Homo sapiens: one gene and its partner. The protein of the gene in region 1 interacts with the protein of each later gene in a pairwise test. Each region holds a gene or a part of one and is shown in the gene's direction. Other genes may lie near its edges. The genes, in order: JAKMIP1 and ARK2N.

Region 1 (12,540 bases):
TCTCATCTGACACCAGCTATTATGGTGTAATTATAGCTGTCCGGTTTAAGATGGTCATGAGGATCTGATTAATGGATGCAATAAAAAGCCCCATCAACATCTGGTGCCCAGGCACAGCTGCAGTCCTATTTGGTGGCCTGCTTCTGACTTGGGTGGGCTTGAGGGTAGAGCAAGCCCAGGGTTCTGTGAGCCCAGAGAGGAGCTGCCAGCCAGGCTGAGCACAGAAAGAGCATGGAGATGCAGGCTTGCTCCTGGGTGGCTCGAGCAGTTGAAGGTCTATCTGAAGCCCCGAAGGTGCCCTCTGGCTCCTGCTGTAGTACCTGGAGTGACGGGTGGAGGCTGCTTGGGGAATTGCAGCAGGCGTCCCTGTCTTGTTGAGCTGGGACTCAGGTCGCCAATGGAGTGCTGGGCCAGATCCAGCTTCCAGGTGGGGACGGGGCTGGGGCCTGGGATCTGGCTGCAACCCCAGCTCAGGATGGCCACACAGAGCAGAGGCTGAGTTCTGGACCAGGGGACTGGGCTTCTGGAACTTGGGGACAGATGCACCTGTCTCCATCCCTAGGTGTTCAAGATTCCAGGCCGAGTGCATCCAGCCTCTTTTAGACATGGATGCTGGTGATGCTGACCTGTTCACCCTTTAGCCAGGTCAACAGGCCAGGTCACCTCCGGGGCTGGGGCTGGGGCTGACTGGCTGGGGGTGTAAGGGCTGGCAGCTTGTATCTGGACATAGCTACAGCAGCTGTGGTGACAGGGAAAGCTGCTCACTCATATCACACTGCCTGGGCTCAAATCCCCTCTCCACCACCACCCCTGCCTGAGGTCTTATAAGCTGTGTAACCCCCTGCCTCAGTTTTCCCATCTGTAGATGGGGACCTCTAAGGTGTCTGCCTCCTGGGTTGTTTGAGGAATGAATGAGACAGTCACACACAGGGCCTGGGTGCTGCCTGTCATACGCTCACATGACCATCAGGGTGACCTTTACATGCCTACTGTGCAGATAGCACCAGGTGCTTTAGAGGGTGTCATGACCCTGGCAGTGACCTGAGAGATCAGGTGTGGCTTCCCCCGTGTTACAGGTGAGCAAGCCAAGGGCTGGAGAGGGCGGGGACTTGCCCAGGTGTGTTAGCTTGCCAGGGCTGCAGTAACCAAGTCCCACAGATAGGGCGGCTTACGCAACAGACGATTGCTGTCTCACAGTCCTGGAGGCTGGCAGCCACAGATCCAGGTGTCAGGATTGGCTCCTTCTGAAGCCTCTCTCCTTGGCTTGCAGACGGCCGCCTTCTCCCTGTGTCTTCACATGGCTTTCTCCTCTGTGTTTGTCCATGTCTGTATTTTCTGTTCTTACAAAGACACCAGGCAAATCGGATTAGGGCCCACCCTAATGACCTCATTAGGATCTATCTCCAAATGGAATCACATCCTGAGGTCATGGGGGTTAGGACTTCAACATATGATTTTCAGGGGGACACAGTTTAGCCCCACACACGAGGCCAGCACAGTAGGTGGTATTGCAGGATTGAAAGCCAGGCCCATGCGGACCCCAGGCTGGGCCTCCCTGTTACCAGGCTGCCTCCCTGCCTCTGGGACGTGTGGCAATTTCCACTTGGATGCACGCTGGCTGATTATTTTCTCAATCCAGCCATCCATGTGGCCGCTTCAGGTTGACTTTACCCATCTGGCTGCTGGGAGAATTTCAATTCTCTGAGAATTCAGTAATGTGCTTATTGACTGGTACAAAAAACATAAATGCAAACTTTACAATTGCATTGAAGTGTTACTTTGATATGATCTCACAATCACTGTCAATGTCCCATTTAAAGTGCTGGCATTTTAGCAAAGCATCCCTGTTGAACACTGTAGGATGAAGGAGGGTGGTAAACGTGTCTGTCTATTCATCTGCAAACCCCTGGCATGCATGCTCCATGCCTGGGCTGAGTGAGAAGTGTTTGGAAGTAACTCAGAGACAGACCCTGTCCTCAAGTCGCATGGGTACAGAGCCTCACAGGAAACCAGCAATACAGCAGCCCTGGGCACATTCCATCAGAGGTTTTAGAAAATAGTGCAGGGACAAGCAGAACCCAAGGCTTCACAGGGGCAGTTTTGTGGGGGTTTTGTGGAGCATTTCCTTACTTTCTGGCATTATAAGATGCCCCAGGCTCCGCAGTGGCTCATGCCTGTAATCTCAGCACTTTGGGAGGCCAAGGCGGGCGGATAATGAGGTCAGGAGATCGAGACCATCCTGGCTAACACAGTGAAACTCTGTCTCTACTAAAAATATAAAAAAATTAGCCGGGCGCAGTGGCGGGTGCCTGTAGTCCCAGCTACTCTGGAAGCTGAGGCAGGAGAATGGCGTGAACCTGGAAGGCAGAGCCTGCAGTGAGCCAAGATCGTGCCACTGCACTCCAGCCTGGGGGACAGAGCGAGACTCCGACTCAAAAAAAAAAAAAAAAAAAAAAAAAAGGTGCCCCAGGCACATCTTGTATATTTCCTACCCCAGCGCTAGACCCAGCAGTTTCTCTAAGGGGTCCTGGTTCCTTTTATTGGAGAATGGCATTAGAAACAAAGATCCAGGCACCAGGCGTGCCCATCACTGCTGCGGTGTCATTGTTTCTAGGCCCTCTCAGCTGCCAGAACAAGGAATATATATGTGTATACTGACCTGCGTATGTACGCATACCTGTAAATATTTCCATATATGACATCTATATCCATACAAAGTCAAACATGAGTTCTTACAGATGTCCCAAGACGCATCCACTGCCGCATGGCTCCCTTCAGCCTCCTCTTGCTTGTCTGTAACCTCTTACTCCAAGTGGGAAACCTGGCTTCCCCCTCTGCCATCCACTTTCTTTGTTCAACACTATACATGTATGATGGTTTCAGAGTAGTGAACTGGTACCCATGAGATTTAGAGGGCTTTGAGCATGGAGGGTGTGGCGGGGAGGGCTGCTGCAGGTGGCTTGGGCAAGGGGGAAGTGGGGAAGTGGCCAGGCCTGGACATGGAGAGCCAGTGCTGCTGGATTGGATGAGGATGAGGATGGAAAGGGGTGAATCTGACTCACTCTCTGAGTGGGAGTGGCAAGTGAGGGTGGTGCTGGTGGTTCAGATAATTTCTCCACGCCAGCCCCCACACCCCCAGGGCATGCTCCCTCTCTTGGCCTTTGTGCCGTGGCTGCATTTAGAGTCCAAGTGCTGAGGAGCGGCTGGTGTAGGTGCCTCTACACTTGGGGTAGCTTGGAGGCACCTGGAGGTAAAGTGCTGGGCGGCTTTTTTTGGCCTGCTCAGCTGGATGGAGTGGTGGTGGGAGGGAGTGCTCTGTGCCCATCAGAGGTCACCCCAGCCTCACTCTGCTGCTTCTGTGGCATAGGTCATGTCACCTGGGCTTGGCTCTCAGCAGCTTTGGGCAGAGCTGGAGGGACCCAGCAGGGCCCTGTCCCCAGGCCCCTGCCTCTCTGTCACCATCCCTGCCCTACACACCTGGATCACCAGCCTCAGCAGCACCTCTGCCCCTCCCAGGAAGCAGCCCCTAGACGCCCCGGGCTGCCCTGCACAGGCCTCTGCCCACCCTTCCATGTTCCTCACCCCCTTTCTACCTGTGTCTCTCACACGAGGCTGCCCACCCCTGATGCAGAAAGTCAGAACCACGATAACAACAGACTTCCATTCACCCACCCACAGTCACCTCATCTTCCTCCTCTCAACGGGCCTTTGAGGGGCAGCTGTTGCCATCCCTGTTTCCTAGTAGAGGAAACTGGAGCTCTGGAAGGTTGTGTAGTCAGGGTTCTTCAAAGAAACAGAACCAATAGGTTGTGACACACACACACACACCCCCCACAGAGTGAGAGGTTATTCGTTAGTTTTAAGGAATCGGCTTATGCGGTTGTGGGGCTGGCAAATCTGAAATGTGTAGGGCAGACCAGCAGGCTGGAGATTCAGGCAAGGGTTGATCTTGCAGCTTCGAGTCCCAGTGCAGCCGGGAGGCAGAGTTCCTTCTTCCGCAGGGGACCTCGGTCTTCTCTTAAAGCCTTCGACTGATTGGATGAGGCCCACCTACATTGTGGAAGGCACCGTGCTTCACCCAGAGTCTACTGATGTAAATGTTAATCTCTTATAAAATGTACCTTCACAGCCACATCTGGACTGGTGTTTGACCAAACGACTGGGCATTGTGGCCCAGCCAAGTCGACCCACAACATCAGCCACCATAGAGGCAGAGAAATTTGCCTGGGGAAACGCAGCTCATCAAAGCAGATTAGGATCTCATTGGATCTGACCCTGCTGGCCCCAGATGGCTGTCGGCATTAACCAGGGACTTGACTGTTGCCTCGCAGGAGGGAGAACAGTCAAAACCATTTTGTCCATAACTGGGACAATTCTGTTAAATACTTAAAGTTCTGGCTTCCTGCTGCTAAATCCACTAGGAAAAGATGCTGATTGCTGCCCCCAGGGTAAGGTGGACAGAACATGGACTGGTCGCCTGGCTTCATTCCTATGATTGTGAGTATCTGGTGAAAGGAGATGTTGATCTTGTGTGTTTGCCTGGGTTGGTTTTATTTGCTTTTTTACCTGCTGTTTTAAGTAAGGATTTATCAATACTCAGGTGCCATTGTAAAACTTCTCACCTAAAATTAATTTTAACATGTGACTATGCTATCAACAGTGTGGTCTGGGGAAAAACATTGCCATTTTCCCTGGAAGCAGCTTGTCCACCAGAGGCAATTCATTTCAGGTCTTCAGAGACGGGCAGAATTCAGGAAATAAGGGCTTGTCAGGCGTTCCTGTGGAATGTGTGTTGAGTGATATTTGAAACAAAAAGGTTAAAGAAAGCATTTTGAAGTGTTTTAAGAACACACTCCCTTGGGACGTTTTATAAGTAATGTTTTGAATTGTTTGCTGATAAAATGAATAGGCTCAAGGCGGGGTGGGTTGCCTGGTAGCACAGGGTCCTCATCCCTCACCCTGGGCAGCTCACCAGACTGTCTCTGATCTTTGGCTGCCTCATGATAAAACAGAGGAGAGAGAGAGGAAGAGAGAGAGAGAGAGAGGAGAGAGGGAGAAAGAGAGGGAGCACGCTACTTCCTTCCCAAGACCGTGAGGGGTTCATGTGGCAATGTGGGTGATGCATTGGAGCCCCCAGCCCAGCTAGGGACCCCACTCAACAAGAATGGTGCCCCCTGCTCACTGCCCCCCAGGACTTAGAAGCCTGGTCTGTCTTTTCCAACTCCACAGTCCGCGCATGGGGCCCTGGAAATATATTTCTGGTTTACAATCTTTTGGGTCTTGGTGATGATTTCTGCAGGGTGTGTTTTGTGATTGAGCAGTCGTCTCAATTTACAACCTGGAAGAGATGTCAAAGGCTTGAATGCCTCTCCAGCATCCTCAGGGGGTTTCCACCCCCAGGGAAAGTCTCAGGGAACTAGCAGGAGAGATTCTAAGTGGGGCTGGCAGGAGGGTCAGGCCTGCAGGGCACTGCCGAAGGGGGAATCCATGGGAACGTGGGCCCAGGTGGGTGTCTTGGGCGTGGGGAGGCTGTGGCCAGCTCCCCCAGCTGTGACCCTGACCCTGACCCTGACCCTGACCCTGACCCTGACCGGCTCTCTCGCCGCTCTGGCTGCAGGTGGGCAAACTGCGCGAGCGGCTGCAGGAGGCGAAGCTGGAGCGCGAGCAGGAGCAGCGACGGCACACGGCCTACATTTCGGAGCTCAAGGCCAAGCTGCATGAGGAGAAGACCAAGGAGCTGCAGGCGCTGCGCGAGGGGCTCATCCGGCAGCACGAGCAGGAGGCGGCGCGCACCGCCAAGATCAAGGAGGGCGAGCTGCAGCGGCTGCAGGCCACGCTGAACGTGCTGCGCGACGGCGCGGCCGACAAGGTCAAGACGGCGCTGCTGACCGAGGCGCGCGAGGAGGCGCGCAGGGCCTTCGATGGAGAGCGCCTGCGGCTGCAGCAGGAGATCCTGGAGCTCAAGGCAGCGCGCAAGCAGGCAGAGGAGGCGCTCAGTAACTGCATGCAGGCTGACAAGACCAAGGCAGCCGACCTGCGTGCCGCCTACCAGGCGCACCAAGACGAGGTGCACCGCATCAAGCGCGAGTGCGAGCGCGACATCCGCAGGCTGGTACGTGCCGCCCCCTCCCCCGCCCGCGGGCACGCGGCCTTCCCTCCCTGCACGCATGGGGGAAATGCGGAGCTCCGAGGACCTGCTGTGCTCCAGGCATTGTTCAAAGCACTGGGGCCCCAGCAACCTCCCTCCCGTCTTAGGTGTGGTAAGGAGGCTTTGGGGCTGCAGGTAATCCGCTCAAAGAACAGTTCCCCATTTGTCAAAGGAGCTTAATGGAGACTAGCGAGGGTTGTTGCAAATGCCTCGTGATAGCGTATCTAAGTGTCGGGCATTTATTGATTCATTTACTTCAACAACCATGAGCAGACTTCCATCTCCAGGTAAGATGCCACAGGTCAGGGCAGGCCGGCCAACTGGCTGCAACAGCAAGGGAAACATATAAATTGCAAATAGTCCTGTTTTGAAAGATACTGGAGATCTGTGGAAGCTGTGGAGTGTGGATGAACTAAAATTCCAAAGGGAAGGGGAAAGAGCCCTGCCTGGGCGGCCTAATTGCCAGCTGCTTTCTTCCCTTGGGGCATTTGTGGATTCTGGGTGCGGGCTGAGGATTGGATGTCCTCAGAGAGATGAGTAGGACTTTTCTGCCATCTCAGAGTGGGCATGAAACAATGGAAACCAGAGGAGCCCCACCTAGGCCAGCTTGCTGCACAGGAGATCCTCCTGAGTCCTGGAGTGAAGGGGGAGGCTGGCGAGCCCAGCTGGAAAGGCAGAATGACAGCTCCCATGCCCTCACTGGACGTAGGAGACAAAGGGAGGGGGCCCGCCACAAACACATGACCAGTCTGCCCCTCAGGGCGTTTGTCACACTTTGAAGCTGTGTGGGGCAGGAGGCTAAGAAGTAAAGTAAGCTGAGATTTTCAGACTGGATCAAAGAGTAACAGTGATATTTACAAGAGAGACATCTTAATTATGAGGACATGGTGACATGGAGCATAAGAGGATGGGGAAAGATACACTGTGCAAGCACTTCCTAAAAGCAAAGCTGGTCTGGCTGTATTAATGTCAAAGGCTCTAAGGCAAGAAGTAATACTAAAGACACAAAAGGACAGTTCTTAATAATAAAGGGTCAATTCAGTGGGAATGCATTCAATAACAAAACCTCAAAATGTATAAAAGAAAAAAATTATCAACACTAAAAGGAGAAGCAGACAAATCCACAGTTACGGTTGGGGACGAACACGCTTCTCTCAGCAAACAGTAGAACACACAGACAAAGAATGAATAAAGACATGATTTCACCAACACAATTAACCAACGTGAACTTACCTGACAGAGCACTCTATTCCACAACTGCAGAATACTGTGGACATGACATACTTTTATCATTGTAGACCGCATTTCAAAATTTGTGGGTTGTAATTAGTCCTTAGAGCAAAACATATTTTAGACAAAAAGAAGAAATGCTGAAAATCAAGCATCTAAACTTCTATCTCAAGAAGAAAGAAAAAGAACAGCAAATTAAACTCCAGAGAGTAGAAGGAAGGAAATTTTAAAGAGCAAGAAGCAGTGAAATAAAATCAATAAAGAAAATCAACAAATTCAAGAGTTAATTAAAACTGATAAATTGACAAACATTTAGCAATATTGATAAAGCAAAACAGAGACAATAAATTACTAATATCAAAAATGTAAAGGGGGAAATACCACAGCTCCTACAGTCAATAAAACCACAGCAAACAGCATATACCAATAAACTTGAAACCTCGATAAAATGAACATATTCCTTGAATAAGCACAATGTACCAAAACTGACATGAAACAAATAGAAAATCTAAGTAGTCCTAAAGCTCCTAAATAAATTAAATCTGTAATGAATAATTTTCCTATGAAGAAAGGCCCAGGCCTAGATGGCTTCACAAGTAAATTCTTTCAAGTGTTTAAGAAAGAAGTAAAACTAATTCTAGCCAAAGTCTTCCAGAAAATAGAGAATTAGGAACACATTTTAACTAACTTATGAAGCCAGTGTAACTCTGATTCCAAAAGCAATAACATTACAGGATAAGAAAACTTTTGGATTACCTTTTATGAACATAGATACAAGAGTACGAGCAAGATATTAACATATCAAATCCAGCAATACATAGGAAGGCTAATAAGTCATAACCCAGCTGGGTTTATTCTGAAAATATAAAGATTGGCTTCATATTCTAAAATCACTGAATATAATTCAACATAATAATATGATAAAAAAGAAAAACGTGGTCAGTCATCTTAATAGATGCAGAAAAATCTGTTGGTAAAATTCAACTTCATGATATAAACTCTCCGAAAACCAGGAAAAGAATGGAATTTCTCTAATATGATAAATGGTTCTATCAAAAATCTTTTACAAGTAACATACATAATGATGAAATATTGAACATTTCCCACCCAAGTTCAAGGTCAAAACAAGATGTTGACTATTACCACTTCTAGTCAACATTGCATTGGCCAGGATGTCAAATATAAAATAAAATAAAATAAATAAAAGTTTCATTGGGAGGCCGAGGCAGGCAGATCACGAGTTTAGGAGATTGAGACCATCCTGGCTAACACAGTGAAACCCCATCTCTACTAAAAATACAAAAAATTAGCGGGGTGCAGTGGTGGGCGCCTGTAGTCCCAGCTACTCAGGAGGCTGAGGCAGGAGAATGGTGTGAACCTGGGAGGTGGAGCTTGCAGTGAGCTGAGATCGCGCCACTGCACTCCAGCCTGGGCGACAGAGTGAGACTCCCTCTCAAAAAAAAAAAAAAAAAAAAAAAAAAAAAGTCTTTAGAGAGGGAGAAAAAAGGGAAACTCATTATTTGCAGGTGCTATGGTTGTGATGTAGCAAACCCAAGACACCTGTTTTAGTTCATTACTGTTGCTATAACAAAATAACACAGACTGGGTAACTTATATATAATAGAAATTTTTTTCTTACCATTCTGGAGGCTGGGAAGTCCAAGATCTAGGCACTATCTGGCAAGGGTCCAGTTTCTGCTTCTAAGACAGTGCCTTGAATGCCATGTCCTCACATGGCAGAAGGAGTGGAATGACAAAAGAGAGGCAGGCAGCTCATATTTCTCTTATAAGGTCACTAACTCCCTTCATAAAGGCTTTGCCCTCATGACTTCATCACCTCTTAAAGACCCCATCTCCTAATACTATCACACTGATGATAAGTTTCAATGTATGAATTTTTGTGAGACACATTCAGAACATGGCAAGACCCTACAAACTATTAGAATTAATAAGTGAGTTTATCAAAGTCTACATATACAAGGTACATACACACAAATAAGTTGTTTCAATATATCAGCAGTGAACAATTAGAAAATGAAATCTTAAAAAATATCATTTACAGTAGAGCACCACAAAATTCAAATACCTAGGAATAAATCTAAGGAAAGTTGTGTAAGATGTCTCCCCTGAAAACTATAAAACATTGCTGAGAAAAACTTAAGGAGATCTAAATCAATGGAAAGGGATATCGTTTTCATCGATTAGAAGACTTAGTATAGATATCAGTTTTTCCATGATTGATCTACAGATTCAGTGCTATCCCTTACCAAAATCCCAGCAGACTCTTTTTTTTTTTTTTTTTTAACTGAGTCTTGCTCTGTTGCTCAGGCTGGAGTGCAGTGGCATGATCTCAACTCACTGCAACTTCTGCCTCCTGGGTTCAAGCAATTCTCCTGCCTCAGCCTCCCGAGTAGCTGGGATTACAGATGCCTGCCACCATGCCCGGCTAATTTTTTTTTTTTTTTTTTTTTTTTGTATTTTTAGTAGAGATGGGGTTTTGCCATGTTGGCCAGGTTGGTCTCGAACTCCTGATCTCAAGTGATCCACCTGCCTTGGCCTCCCAAAGTGCTAGGATTACAGACGTGAGTCACCACGCCCAGCCACCAGCAGACTTTTTAAATGCAGACATCGGCAAGCAGATTCTAAATTTGATGTAAAAATTGAAAGGATGTGGAATCACAATCTTGAAGAAGAGAAAAATTGGAGGTTTCATACAACCTATAACAAAGTTTACTACAAAGCTACAGTAATCAAGACAGTAGGCTGAAGGTTAGAGAGACACGTCAATGGAACAGAAGAGCCCAGAAGTACATCTTCACGTGTGTGGACAAAGATACCGTGGCAGTTCACTATAGAGAGGATGATCTTTCAATGGACAATATTGGACTGGTCAGCTATCTGTAAGAAAAAAAAACAGGAAATACACACACACACACACCACACACACTCTCTGTATATAGAGTATGAAGTCTATATCATACTACCCACAAAGATTAATTCAAAGTGGTCCATAGGCCTACATGTAAAAAGTAAAACAATATAGCTACTAGTAGAAAACAGACTATTTTCATGATCTTGGGACATGGTAAATATTTCTTAAGCAGGACACAGTACACTATTTACATAAATATACTATTCAGAGAGGGTTGTACATTGGACATGAAATAATCATTGTTCATCAAAAGACACTAATAAAAGAGAGACAAGGCAAATTACAGACTGAGAGAAGACATGTTCAATACCTATAACCACAAAGAACTTTTGTGCAGATTATAAAAACTATAAAATAATATGAAAACTCAAAAATGGGCAAAAGCTTGAAAGAATATTTCAAAAACAGGATAATTAAATGACTAACAAATATGTGAAAAGGTGTTCTACCTCATTGATCATCAGGGAACCAGAGTAAAATTACAACTAGATATAAATTCTCATCCACTAGAATGACTATTAAAAAAAAACAGACAATAGTAAATGTTGACTAGCATGTGGAGGAATGGGTACCGTCATTCTGATAGGACTTTAAAATGGTATAGCCACCTTGATAAATGGTTTTGTAGTTTCTTAAAAAGTCTAAAAAAAGGACACCTACGGACTCTGTAATTCTACTCCTAAGTATCTACCCAAGAGAAATGAAAACACATATCTATATAAAGATTTGTACATGAATGCTTATAGCATTATAATAGTCAACGAATGGGAGAAGCCCAAATGTCCTCAGTTGGTGAATGGATAAATGTGGCATGTCTATATAACACAATGTGATTCAACAATGAGAAGGTATGAAATATTGATATATGCTTCAATATCTATAACATTTCTGAACCTCAGAAACATTATGCTAAATGATAGAAGCTAGACACAAAAGACCTCATATTGTATGCTTGCATTTGTATGAAATCTCCAGAATAGCCAAATCTATATATCCAAATCTATAGTGGCTGACGGGGACTAGTTGGAATGGAGATTAGCTGTAAATGAGTGTGAGGGACCTTACTGGGCGAGGAAGGTTCTGAAACAGATTATAATGATGGCTCCACAACTTGGAAGACTTACTAAAAATCGGCGAAGTTCATGATTTATAAATTAAACTCTAAAATGTTTAAAACAAGAAAAATTGGAAATTTAAATAGGATTGATAAAAGTTTAATGGTGGATCTTGTATTTGCATTTAAAAGGAGCATATTTATAAGAGGAAGAACAGCACACAATGAAACAACACTGCCCAGGCACCAGGATGGCTAAATTAAAAAGCTAACAGTGCTGAGAAATGGCAAGGACGTGGAGCAGCCGTGCCCCTCGGTAGCATCCCATACACTAAAGTGCCCTAAAACGAAACAGAGACATCTGTTAACTCAGAATTTCTCATCAAGCAAAAAATATTATTTTACAATAAGAGTGAAATAAAGACATTTTAGGTAAAAGGAAGCTAAGATTATTTGTCGCCAGAGGCTGTACCACCAAAAATGCTAAAGGAGGTTCTGCAGGTGAAGAGAAACAATGCCAGATAGGAATTTAGTTCTCTTGGAAGGGAATAAAGAACAGGAGAAGTGGGTAAAGGAGAGTCAATGTCTGAGACGATCTCTTTTTCTCAGTGTATTCAAAACACAAGTGACTGTTTAAAGCAAAAGAATCAGATTGTATTGTGGGGTTTATGACATATGCAGACGTAAAATGCATAAAACAATCTAGAAAGGATGGGGTGGGGGTGGTTGGTGGAAAATGGATCTGTGCTCTCGCACAGTCCTTCAGTCTTGTCTGAGGGGGTGCGTGACGCTATGAGTTCAAGGAGGCTGTGACAAATCAAGGTTTAAAAAGGCAGCACAAGGAGGCACAGATAAAAAGCAAATGGGGAAATAAAATGAGAGACTAAAGAAATCTGTTTGCACTAAAAGAGGGTAGCAAAGAAGGACCAAAGCAGGGGAAAAAAACAGACGAGACAAATGGAGAAGAGACAGCAAAACGGTGGAATTAAAGGAGTCATATCAGTAGTTACATTAAATGTAAATGGACTAAACCAGTTAAAAGGCAGAAATTGTCAGAGTGGATACAAAAGTCACACTTTAAATATAAAGACCCACTTTCCCTGAAGGAAAAGGATAGAAAACATGCTCTGTGAGCAATAAATGTAGCAATAGGATGGATAAAGGTGTATTTAGTCA
Region 2 (12,540 bases), on another chromosome or scaffold:
TACCCATCCTCCTCTACCCTACCTTCTAGGACTTAAAAAAAAATACTTTCTCTCATAAAGAGAACATATTTACCTTGTAGAAATATTGTTCTGCCTGCTATGTAGAGAACAGGTTGGTGCATAGGAGAAAGACTGAGTTTGAAGAGACAGGTGATGATAGTCAATACTATTGAAAATAAATGATGGAGGTTGTGTCTAGAGTGGTGACAGCGGATATGGAGAATAGTGGACAGACTAGAAAACTATTAAAGAGGTGGGATTGATAGGAGTTAGTGAATGATGGACATGGTGAATGATGGGATGCAGTGAGTAAAGAAGAAGGCATTGTCAAAGATAACTCAGGCTTTTGACATGAGCAACTGAGATAATAGCAATAGTAGTACTATTTACTGAGCTAGAGAAAGCCAGAGAAGGAGCAGAGTGGGGTAGATCAGAGATGATCTGGATTTGAATATGATGTGATTGTGGTACCTTTCCAAAATCTAAATACAGATGTCAACTGGGTATTTGGGTGGACTGGTATAGAGCTCAGAGATCTGAGTTGGAGAAATAAAATTACTAGTCTAGGGATGGTATTGGAAAATGTGGGTTTAGAAGAGCTCACTTTGGGCCAGGTATTGTGGCTCACACCTGTAATCCTAGCACTTTGGGAGGCCGAGGTGGGTCGATCACTTGAACTCAGGAGTGTGTAACCAGCCTGGGCAACATGGTGATACCCCGTCTCTACAAAAAATACAAAAATTAGCCAGGCATGGTGGCTTGCACCTGTAGTCTCAGCTACTTGAGGGGGCTGAGGCGGGAGGATCACTTGAGCCAAGGAGGCAGAGGTTACAGTGAGCCAGGATGGCGCCCCTGCATTCCAGCCTGGGCGACAGAGTGAGACCCTGTCTTAAAAAAAAAAAAAAAAGAACTCACGTTGGTGGATGGGAAAAGGACCTAGACCTAGGATTAAATCCTGAGATTTGGTAGAGGAAGTTAAGCCTACAAAGTAGATTGGGAAGGACTAACCAGAAGAATAGAGAAACCTTGAAGCCAAAGAAAGGCATTAATTGGTTTAAAGAGCAGAGAGAGTCGTCAGGCATAAAATGTTGCTTAAATATTAAGTAAAATTAGGGCCAAAATATGTTGGATTTAGAGATAGTGAGGTCATTAATGACCCTGGTAATAAATGTTCCACTGGTTTTTTTTACTTTTGTTTTTATTTTTTGAGACAGGGTCTTGCTCTGTTATGCAGCCTGGAACGTACTGTTGCAAACACGGCTCATGACAGCCCTGACCCCCTGGGCTCAAGGCATTCTCCTTGCTGAGCCTCCCCAGTAGCTGGAACCACAGCATGTGCCACCATGCTCAGCTAAATTTTAAATTTTTTGTAGAGATGGGGTCTTGCCATGTTGCCTAGGCTTGTTCCACTGGTTTGATAGAAGGAGATGTCAGGTTGCATTGGGTTGCAGAAGGGAGTGTGAGAGTTAAGGAAATAGAAGTTTATACAACTCTCACAATAAGATTGACTGTGAAAGACGAGCATGATACCTGGAGAGGGAGATGTGAGATTGAAGGTGATAGGTCAAAGGAGGATTTCAAAAATGAATGAATGGTCCAGTTGGGTGTGGCAGGTGGACGAGAGCCAAGGAATAATCAATAATGTAAGATATTAGGGAAATGAGAGGGAGATGAGCTCTAGTACTCATGTAGAGGAGGTTGCGTTTAGATTGGAGGGAAGAACAGCATGGGGGAAAGTGCTGTTCTAATAGGAAAAATGTTGTGTATTTATTACTTCACTGAATATAAATTTACTGTCAACATTAACCCAGAGGGTTGATAGCCTTTTATGCCATTTATGTGATGCAATTCCTATTTGACAATTATATCATTTTATACTGCTAGCTACTTGACTGTTCCTACCAGAAAAACCTATTTTTTTCCCCTTGACCAAAAACAATATATGCAGTAAATAATCTGGTTGTATGGAAAGATTAATCTTTATGTATGACATCATTTCCCCCTGTGGTTAGGGCACTTCGTTTTTATTCCACTGAAGGGAGTTTAGTCAGAGCTTATATTTTCACTTTCTGTGACTTTTTTCTCCTGTATTTAATTAATTATAGCAAAATTCCACTATAGGAAGAAAGCATAGTAGAATTTATTGACTAAGCTTGACCCAAAGAGTAGTCTAGTGTTATGGCCCCAGAAAAGCACAACTTCTTTTTCTTCAGAAGACTTTTATGTCAGAGTGGATTTTTGAATAGATAATGTTTGTATACATCACAAATTCAAGAGATACAAAACTGCATACCACACTGTCTTCTCCTGTTCCCTTATTCACCTGCTTTCCTTCTCAACTGGTATTACTATTTTCTTAAGTATCTTTCCAGAGTCTATGCATCTACAGATAAACTCATGTAAATATAGTTTTGTTATTTATTTACATAAATGCTATAATGTATCTTTTTTCATTAAAATTGCGTGAGAACTGTTTCTTACCTCTCTATATAAAGTGCTTTCTCATTTTTTTAATGGCCACATTGTATGAACATACCATGATGAGCTAACTTTTGTCCTGTTTGTGGTCAATACTAGTCTTTTGTGATTGATTTGAGCATATTTAAGTGGTTTTGACTGCAATACCGGTTACTAATTTAGGTAGTATAAATTAAATCTCAGTTAACACTCAAATTTAAGGAACTTGAAAGATAATCATTAAATTGAATGATGTGCCATATTGTCATTTTTTTTTAACAGGGAAAAACAATCTAGATTTACCTGTTTTATCCACACAACTTATTTCTTGAAGAAACAAGCGTTGTATGGTCATTTTAACAAATTTACTTTTTAGTCTGATGCTGTATTATGTACTTTGAAAATATCCAGTGCTGCCTTCTTTCACAAATTGAGACTTTTGATGCTTGTCCTATATAGCTGACATTAATTCCATCTGAGTATATTTTCTCAGATATTTTAGCTTTAAGAAGAATTTTTTTTTTTTTTTTTTTTTTTTTTTTGGAGACTAAGTCTCACTCTGTCGCCCAGGCTGGAGTGCAGTGGCGGGACCTCGGCTCACTGCAAGCTCCACCTCCCGGGTTCAAGTGATTCTCCTGCTTCAGCCTCCTAAGTAGCTGAGATTACAGGTGCCTGCCACCACGCCTGGCTAATTTTTGTATTTTTAGTAGAGATGGGCTTTGACCATCTCGGCCAGGCTGGTCTTGAACTCCTGATCTCGTGATCCACCTGCCTCGGCCTCCCAAAGTGCTGGGAATACAAACGTGAGCCACCGTGCCCAGCCTTAAGAAGAATCATTATTCCAGAATATACAATTTGAATCTCCATAATAGAATTAACTCTCATTTTTATTCAGTTAGAAAATCTTTGTCCCCCCCACTGCTAAATTTGACTGGCTTAAAAAAAAGAACTTGGGTTTATTCCTCATACCTGGGGGTATTTTGTATCTGTGAATATTTTATTTCGTGTTTGTATTGACAGCATGCTTTATTTATAACGGTCTCCGTTGGTTTAACTGTTACTCCCTCTGTTGGCTTTCAGAGGTGTTACATTTTTTTGTAATGGTGTCAGAAAAAATATTTATGCTGATTTTCACTTAGCCTCCAACATTAGTATTATAATTGATACAAATATGCTTGTGAAGTAGGCTACACACAAGATTGTTTTATTTATTTTTTATTTATTTTATTTATTTTTTTGAGATGGAGTCTTGCTCTGTCACCCAGGCTGGAACGCAGTGGCGTGATCTTGGCTCACTGCAACCTCCGCCTCCCAGGTTCAAGCAGTTCTTTTGCCTCAGCCTCCCGAGTAGCTGGGACTACAGGCGCTCGCCACCATGCCTGGCCAATTTTTGTATTTTTAGTAGAGACGGGGTTTCACCATGTTGGCCAGACTGGTCTCGAACTTCCAACCTCAGGTGATCCACTTGCCTCCACCTCCTAAAGTGCTGGGATAACAGGTGTGAGCCACCACTCCTGGCCTAGGATTGTTTTAAATTAACAGATGTTTCAGTGGCCATGAATGTTCTGGTTTCCATGAATGTGTTAAGGAAACTTAATCAGAATGCCTGTTTTATCAACAGCTGAGAACAGGGCTATGAAAAACAACAGGCATATAGAATATTTATGTTTGTATTAAGCAAAAAGTGGGCTTGGCATGTTAGATCTGTTTTAAAGGATTTTGCAAATATTTCCTAGTTTTTGTCTGCTATAGATTGAACTATCTAGGTAACTTGATGGAGTGAGATGATGGAGATGCCATATTGCACCTAGCATACCGTATAGAATAATGGTTATGTGTGTCTGTGACCTATGGACATGATAGTTGCTTTCTGTAATGTAACACATACAGGGCAAGGTATTTACTTGTTTTCCATATTTAGCATCCTCTTTAAAAACCACCAGATTTTCAATAGGTTCTTGGAAACTGCGACTTTAAATGGAACAAGATACTGCTGGTCTTTGAATGATGTCCTTTAGTTATAAGGTTAATGAGAAAAATTGGTTTTGTTAAATGTCATTTCACTTAAAGTCTCAGTTTCCAAGAACCTGTTGACAATGTTAAGTAAGGACTTAACTGTATATAGGTCATAAGCTTTTGAGGTTAAATATTATGTCCTGTACCTGTATGGTTAATTGGAGTTGTATCACTCACAGTGGTGGTAGAGTGTTAGGTTCTAAATTTAGCATACAAAGTGTACAATGGGTGTAGAGTATTTTCTCTTAAATCCCTTTATTCATTCATAGAATATACTAGGCTTTCTGGGTTCTGTATTTAGTGACCATTGTGGATAAAACATCTATTTAAACACTAGACTCAAATTCAGCATGATGAGGTATGTGGGAGCTAGGTAGGATTGAGGAAGCATCAAATTCTGGCTTTTCATCTTAATGCTTCACTAGAGCAACTCCTATTGAGGGGACTGCAGACAAGTTGGATGCATAGTATTTGGTTGCTCATTTGCCAAATGCATGTAGTTGGAGTGTGTTTGTGTTTTTGTTTTTTTAAACATAAATGTAGGGGCCAGGCACGGTGGCTTACTCCTGTAATCCCAGCAGTTTGGGAGGCCACAGTGGGTGGATCACTTGAGCTCAGGAGTTCGAGACCAGCCTGGGCAACATGGTGAAATCCTGTCTCTACAAAAAATACAAAAATTAGCCGGGTGTGGTGGTGTGCGCCTGTAGTCCCAGCCATTTGGAAGGCTGAGGCAAGAGAATTGCTTGAGCCAGGGCAACGGAGGTTGCAGTGAACTGAGATTGCACCATTGCACTCCAGCCTGGGTGGCAGAGTAAGACCCTGTCTCAAAAACAAACAAACAAACAAACAAAAACATTTGATGTTTCTCTATTGTAACTCCCCTCCTCCCACCTCCTTTCTTTTTGGATTTGAATGTAAAAGTAGTCATTCCAGGTAATGCATTTCTAGACTAGTTTTAAAGCATTCTTTTTCATTTATATCAAAGTCAATGAATGCATATTAATTATATCAGAGTTTTGAAGATTTCTTTGTAGAACACTTTAAATAAAATTGTAAACTTGAAAATGTTCATTACATGTTGGCCTTTCAAGTTAGAGGATTAATATTATGGCATTTTTAGTAGCTCAGTATGCTTAGATTTTGACCGTATTAAGTCCTTTGAATTTGACTGTTGATCAAACAAGCAGATAATAATATATATATATTTTAAAGGCCTGTGTAATAGTAAGTTTTGCCCCACCCACTTAGAAAGGTAGGCATGTTGTGTTGACTAAATAATCTGGCATTCTGTTTATTGACTTTGTGTGTTTTTGTACAGGTTGCTTTCCTGTTGCATCTTTGATATCATTTCCTAGACTCTACTCCATGATTTAACTTGAAATTCTGAAATGAAGATGGAGGAGGCAGTGGGAAAAGTTGAAGAACTCATTGAGTCCGAAGCCCCACCAAAAGCATCTGAACAAGAGACAGCCAAGGAGGAAGATGGATCTGTAGAACTGGAATCTCAAGTTCAGAAAGATGGTGTAGCGGATTCTACAGTTATTTCTTCAATGCCCTGCTTGTTGATGGAACTGAGAAGGGACTCTTCTGAGTCTCAGTTAGCATCCACAGAGAGTGACAAGCCTACAACTGGCCGAGTTTATGAGAGTGACTCCTCTAATCACTGCATGCTTTCCCCTTCCTCTAGTGGTCACCTGGCTGATTCAGATACGTTGTCTTCCGCAGAAGAGAATGAACCCTCTCAGGCAGAAACGGCGGTAGAAGGAGACCCTTCAGGAGTGTCTGGTGCCACAGTTGGGCGCAAGTCTAGGCGGTCCCGATCTGAAAGTGAAACTTCCACTATGGCTGCCAAGAAAAACCGGCAATCCAGTGATAAACAGAATGGCCGAGTCGCCAAGGTTAAAGGTCATCGGAGCCAAAAGCACAAGGAGAGGATCAGGCTACTGAGGCAGAAACGGGAGGCTGCTGCAAGGAAGAAATATAACCTGCTGCAGGACAGTAGTACCAGTGATAGTGACCTGACTTGTGACTCAAGCACGAGCTCATCAGATGATGATGAAGAGGTTTCAGGGAGCAGCAAGACAATCACTGCAGAGATACCAGGTAGAGGATGTTTTTTAAACTGACTGTAAAGTACCTGATGGCATTTCTCAGCTATCAGGTTCAGTTAGATGAGTGACACTTGAAAAAATCCAGGAGACCTGCAGCTCTGTGTAAATTTGAAGACTGCAGTCTATTAACAAGACATGGCCAATTTATAAAACCTGTTCTGAGGTTTCCAGTGAACTTTAGCACATCAGGAAAAACAAAATTAAAGGGTTAATGATAGGGACAAGATTATTTTTAAGTAATGGAATTTCTCATAAGTCTGTCTGTAACACATTACCTGAACTCCCAATCATTGCCTTTTTGGCACTGCTTAGATTTAATACTCACTGTTCGGCATCATTACTGAGTACATTCTCCTCAGGAATAGGCACCTTGCTTTATTATATAGCCACTGCACTTGAGCTTATAGTGTCTGAAATAACACATTCTATCTTTTGTTAAAGTTTTCTAATAATTTTTCCTCCAAAAACAGTAGTTTTATGTGTTTCCCCCATATTCAATGCATGAGAAGCTAGTTATCCTTGTTACAAATCTTTCTATCCTCACGTTGAAAAGAATGTCTTTCTGAAAAATTTCCCATTAGTTCCCCAAGTTTTAAAAAAGTTTGTTAGAAATCCGCTTGTTCTAGCTCTCATTGGTATAAGGGTCTGTAACTTATTACATATTTGGTAAATCTGCTTTCCCCATTCTTATTGCATCTGGTACTGTGTACTATAATACAAAGGCAGTCTTGAGATTTCATAGTGGAAGAAAGATGTATCTGAATGGTTCTTAAGTAGTGAATTCTTATTATCCAAGAGATCCTTACAATATGATCAGGAACATTTTGTAAACTGTATGGCATTGAATAGGTCATGGCAGTATTGTTTATTGCCACATTGAAGAGGGGCAAGTTTGGGTTTTCTAAAGTTTTATGGGTGACTATGTTTTTTCTCTCCCTGTTTTCTGAAAGCTTTCTGTTTCTACATGTGAAGACAGCATATTGCTGATATACAAAGAACATTTCAAGAGAAATCATATTGGTTAATGGAATCTATAGCTTCCCAAACTTATATAAATTCAGTAACAAGAATGATTGGTTTTAAAGCACTTTATAGGTGTTCAAGTTCTGATAATAAGTCTTGTCCATATAATATAAATATGAGTCTCAAACGATCTTTAGAAATGCTTTTTACTGTTTTAATATCTCTATTGGATTCCTTTGCTATTGTTCCTTGTAATAAAACTACCGGGAGGGGGATTTCAATGAAGCTCATCAGTTAAATGTATGAGAGAAACAGACTTTGGGGTTGTTCTAAGGCAGGTTTTAGGTATATATTTTAGTTTTACATGTATTAATATTTTTAAAAAAACCTTATTAATACCTGTAAAATTGTGCATTCCTATATCCTCTTCTAACCTCTTAATCAAGACCTTGATGGAACTCTTAATACAATACTTACTTCCACTTACTAAGCAGGATTTTATGTAACTACCCCAATACTTTGCCTTTTTGTGGAAAGGAAGAAGGTGGGTAAACAAAATTTAAAGTCAGAACCCTATTGTAAGGTGGCTTGAGAAATGTCTTCATAGGCACTTTCCCTGTTTTGCTTAAATAGGTTAGATGTGCTTTGTTCATATTTTCCTAATCTTCTTTCTAATTGAGTATCTTGACCACTGCTTAAAACTTAAAACACCAGTGTCTGTTTCTTGTCTCTTCTGAATTGTGTACTAACTGAACACCAAAGTAAATTAATTTGAATCTATAGTTTGGTTTCTATTGTTCACACCATTTAGTAACTTTGTGGCTTTTGAAAATACACATAGTTTTCTAAGGTAATCCTGGAGAATCAAATGGTAGATTGAGGTACAGGGTCACTGTATGTGACTGCCTGTGTGTGTGCTGGCAGTTTTGGGAGGTCTTATGGTATACCTGCCATTCCCATAAGACAGGTATGAATGATCTTTACTGGAATTATGCAAAGCAGCAAAAATGGAACAACTTAGAGTTCAAATATTAGGAATTTCATTTCAATTGTCCATATTGTTGTCTCTTGAAAAATTGTGACATTGTGAATTTTTAATGTAACAGTGATGTATCTTTCAGTTTACTGAGTCACCTTATGACTTTGGGGAAGAGAGGAGGCACGTTCAACCTTATAGTAAGAGCAGTTGTCGAAAAGTTGCCTAAATTGTAAAGGTAGGATAAATTATGAACTGACTTGAGTTCAACAACATGGACATTCAGGTGAACTTAAGCTGGATGGGCCTAACAGAATCTCTTGGATGTCGGAATGTTAATTCAGCTGTTTACACAGAATGGAAACCAAGTGGAAAAGTAAAAACCGATTATTGCCATACTCTTTCATTAAGGTACAACCAATTTAGTAATTCAGAAAATGCTCTTTATAAGCTTTTGTTTGGGCTCAGCTTAAAAGTTGAAGGCATTATCCTAAATAATTCCTGTTAGGATATCCTAATACCTTAATCCTAAATGTTATGCCAAATAATTGTAACTGTTAATGCATATTCTTTTAGAGAGTGCAAATAATTAATAATGCAGACCAGTGTAGTGCATGATCATACTTTAATTGAGTTTGATATCTGGGCAACAGATGTTTATGACGATTTTTTAAAGTTAGCAGTTAACTGACAGGCAGCTTAGTATCGGCACTAGATCATCTCTCTTTGAAGTTTTTGGAAATATATTGATGTTTTAAGAATCTGTTTGGAGGTATCATATCAAAATAATGCTGGCAGTACTTTCATTTGGCAGACTTAGAGTTGAGTAAAGGGCATTTTATAGTAAATTTATAATATTTTATAGTGAATTCATGTAAAAGTACTATGTGATGGTTATCTTGAGTATCAAGGCTTTTTATCAAGTGATTTCTTTTTTTTTTTTTTTGAGACCGAGTCTTGCTCTGTCACCAGGCTGGAGTGCAGTGGCGCGATCTCTGCTCACTGCAACCTCCGCCTCCCAGGTTCAAGCGATTCTCCTGCCTCAGCCTCCCAAGTAGCTGTGACTACAGGCGTGTGCCACCATGCCCAGCTAATTTTTTTGTATTTTTAGTAGAGACGGGGTTTCACCATGTTGGCCAGGATGGTCTTGATCTCCTGACCTTGTGATCCGCTTGCCTTGGCCTCCCAAGTGCTGTGATTACAGGTGTGAGCCACCACGCCCGGCCATTATCAAGTGGTTTCCTTATGCATTATCTTTTTGTGCTTTGATCATGCTCTGCAGTTTTATGATTAGAGTATTACTGTTCATGGGGGGTCAGTTTCTCTGTAAAAGCAGTTTTGAGACTAGCTCTATAAAATCTGTAGTTGGAGGGATTTTGATTTTAATGTAAATAATGGACATTAGCCTTCATTCAGTTTGAAAAAGTTAATTTTTTGAACATACTAACATACGTGCATCGGTGTACATGGTCAGTGGGGAAAAGTTTTTCCAGTAACTGTTTTTCATAAATATTTAGCAGAGTGGACCTCCATACAGGGTAGCTTTATCTTGTCTTGTCTTTAATGACCTGCTTTGTGGTTAAATGCTTATTCACACCGAAGTTCCAAAAATAATACCCCTCGTGGCAGGTAAGAGTCGGTTGTCTTGGTTTGTTTGCCTTTGAAAATCTCATTTCTTTTGGAGAATGTCATTGAGGCTACTGAGGACAGCTGTTTAAGTTTACTTGAATTCTCAATCCATGCAGCCAGGCTAGACCAGCTCAGCCCCACTTCAAGACAAAATCTCAGCACCCATTACTCACCATACATATTTATGCAGTGAGCTGCATCATGACCAGCTATCATCTTACCTCATAGTTTTTTTCTCTGGTAGAGATAATTAACTTATTATGCTTGATCAGTTAACTCTTGCTTAGAAATTTAAAAAATATTTTTAAGTGACAAATTCTTTGTAGAAATTTTTGAAAATAGAAATATTTGAAGTAGAAAGTTAAAATCACCCACAATTCTGCTTTTGTTAACATTTGAATATGTTGTCTTCCATGATATATAACAAAATTTGTCTGGGTATTGCATATGTCGTCCTTTCCTTCTTAATATTGCATTTTGAGCATTTAACCAGAACACTAAATATTCTCCCTAGAACATATGGATTTTGAATAATTTAGCTAATTATAAAAATAACTTCCCTAATGGTCCTTTGGGCTCTTTTAAGTTTTTGCTGTTATACGTTCAGGGTATGAACACTTAAGGCTCTTGACCACATACTGCCATACTGCCATACTGCCATACTGCTTTTAAAAAATAATTAAGCTGAGTGCGATGGCTCACGCCTGTAATCCCAGCACTCTGGGAGGCCAAGTCAGGTGGTTCATTTGAGGCCAGGAGTTTGAGACCAGCCTGGTGAACTTGGTGAAACCTCATCGCTACTAGAAATACAAAAGTTAGCCAGGTGTAGCAGCATGTACCAGTAGTCCCAGCTGCTCCGGAGGCTGGTGTGGGAGGATTGCTTGAGCCCAGGAGGCAGAGGCTGTAGTGAGCCATGATTGAGCCTCTGCACTCCAGCCTGGGTGACAGAGCGAGACTCTGTCTCAAAAAAATCCAAACAAAAACAAAAATAAGTTTATTTCACCTGGGAGCTTGAGTGTTCATGCATTGTATTCTTGCTATTGAATATTAATTTTTTTTAAAAGCTTGCTGATTTGATAGAAGAATGATATCTTGCTGGTGTGGTGTCTCATGCCTGTAATCCCAGCACTTTGGGAGGCTGAGGCAGATGGATTACCTGAGGTCAGGAGTTCGAGACCAGCCTGGCCAACATGGTGAAACCCCATCTCTACTAAAAATACAAAAAAAAAAAAAGAAAAATTAGCCGGGTGTGGTGGCGCGCGTCTGTAGTCCCAGCTACTCGGGAGGCTGAGGCAGGAGAATCACTTGAACCTGGGAGGTGGATGTTGCAGTGAGCCGAGGTCATGCCACTGCACTCCAGCCTGGGTGACAGCAAGACTCCATTAAAAAAAAAAAAAAAGGTATTTTGATGTTAATTTGCATTTCTTTGATCACTAGTGAAATTGAAAAACGTTTAGCTATTTGTATTCCTTTGGTAAAGTCTGTTCATATTCTTTGCACATTTTTCTTCTGACGTGTTTTTTCTTACTAATTTTTGAGGCTTTTTAACCTTTTGGGGGTTTAATTGCTTGGCAAATTTTAAATATAAGGCAGTGAGGAGGATTCATGGTTGAAGATCCCAAACCCACATAGTGAATCCATGAAGCGCAGTAATTGACCTTTTTCCTAGATTGAATATCAAAGGATTTCAGTGGCTAAAAGCCTCATGTCCCTATTTTAAGCCTTTTGTAATCTGGTTGTAGTTTGGTAGCTATTTAAGAGACTCACAAAATACATTGATAACAAAACACTGACACAGAATAATCAGGTAAAAACTGTCTATTTTCAGATTGGTAAATGCAAATCAGATGGGTAAAATACATATGGTTTGCAATCTGGCTATGTATTAGAATCAGCTGGGTGGTATTTAAACCATCTGATGCCCAGACCCCACTTTAGCCCCATTCAATCAGAATCTTTGGGGTCTGACCCCAGGCATCAGCTTTAAATGATTGACCTTAGGTGATGACACTGAGTAGCCAGGGCTCAGAACCGCTCAGTTAAGCAGTGATATGTTAAGTTTCCTGTATCTGAAAATCACTGTGAAACTGGTAGTCTGGTTCAATTAAGTTCTCTTACTGCTAATGGGTATCAAGTTCTAAACAGTGGAGTCTGGTTTTTTTGAAATTACATTAGTTATAAATCACAGCACAGTTCTATATTAATTAACAAGCATTAAGTGCCCTCTTTTACTTCATTTAAGCGATTATTTGAAAAGCATGCAATGTCTAAATGTGGTTTTCTGTACGCTACAAGGTCTAGATGATGTTAATTAAAAAGCTTTGAAGTCTTACTGGTGGGTATCCTTTGGCAATTTCTCATGTTGAAGCACCAAGATACTATTTTTGG

The links.
Region 2: the proteins of JAKMIP1 (region 1) and ARK2N interact in binary tests that used the Homo sapiens proteins (3 or more experiments, as listed by UniProt).

What each region holds. Positions count from the first base shown.
Region 1 is NC_000004.12:6,099,045-6,111,584, reverse strand, and holds part of JAKMIP1 (janus kinase and microtubule-interacting protein 1), read left to right. Parts: intron 1-5,617; coding exon 5,618-6,112; intron 6,113-12,540. UniProt on the Homo sapiens protein: Associates with microtubules and may play a role in the microtubule-dependent transport of the GABA-B receptor. May play a role in JAK1 signaling and regulate microtubule cytoskeleton rearrangements.
Region 2 is NC_000018.10:46,210,020-46,222,559, forward strand, and holds part of ARK2N (protein ARK2N), read left to right. Parts: intron 1-5,791; 5' UTR 5,792-5,861; coding exon 5,862-6,576; intron 6,577-12,540. UniProt on the Homo sapiens protein: AMPK substrate important for exercise capacity and skeletal muscle function.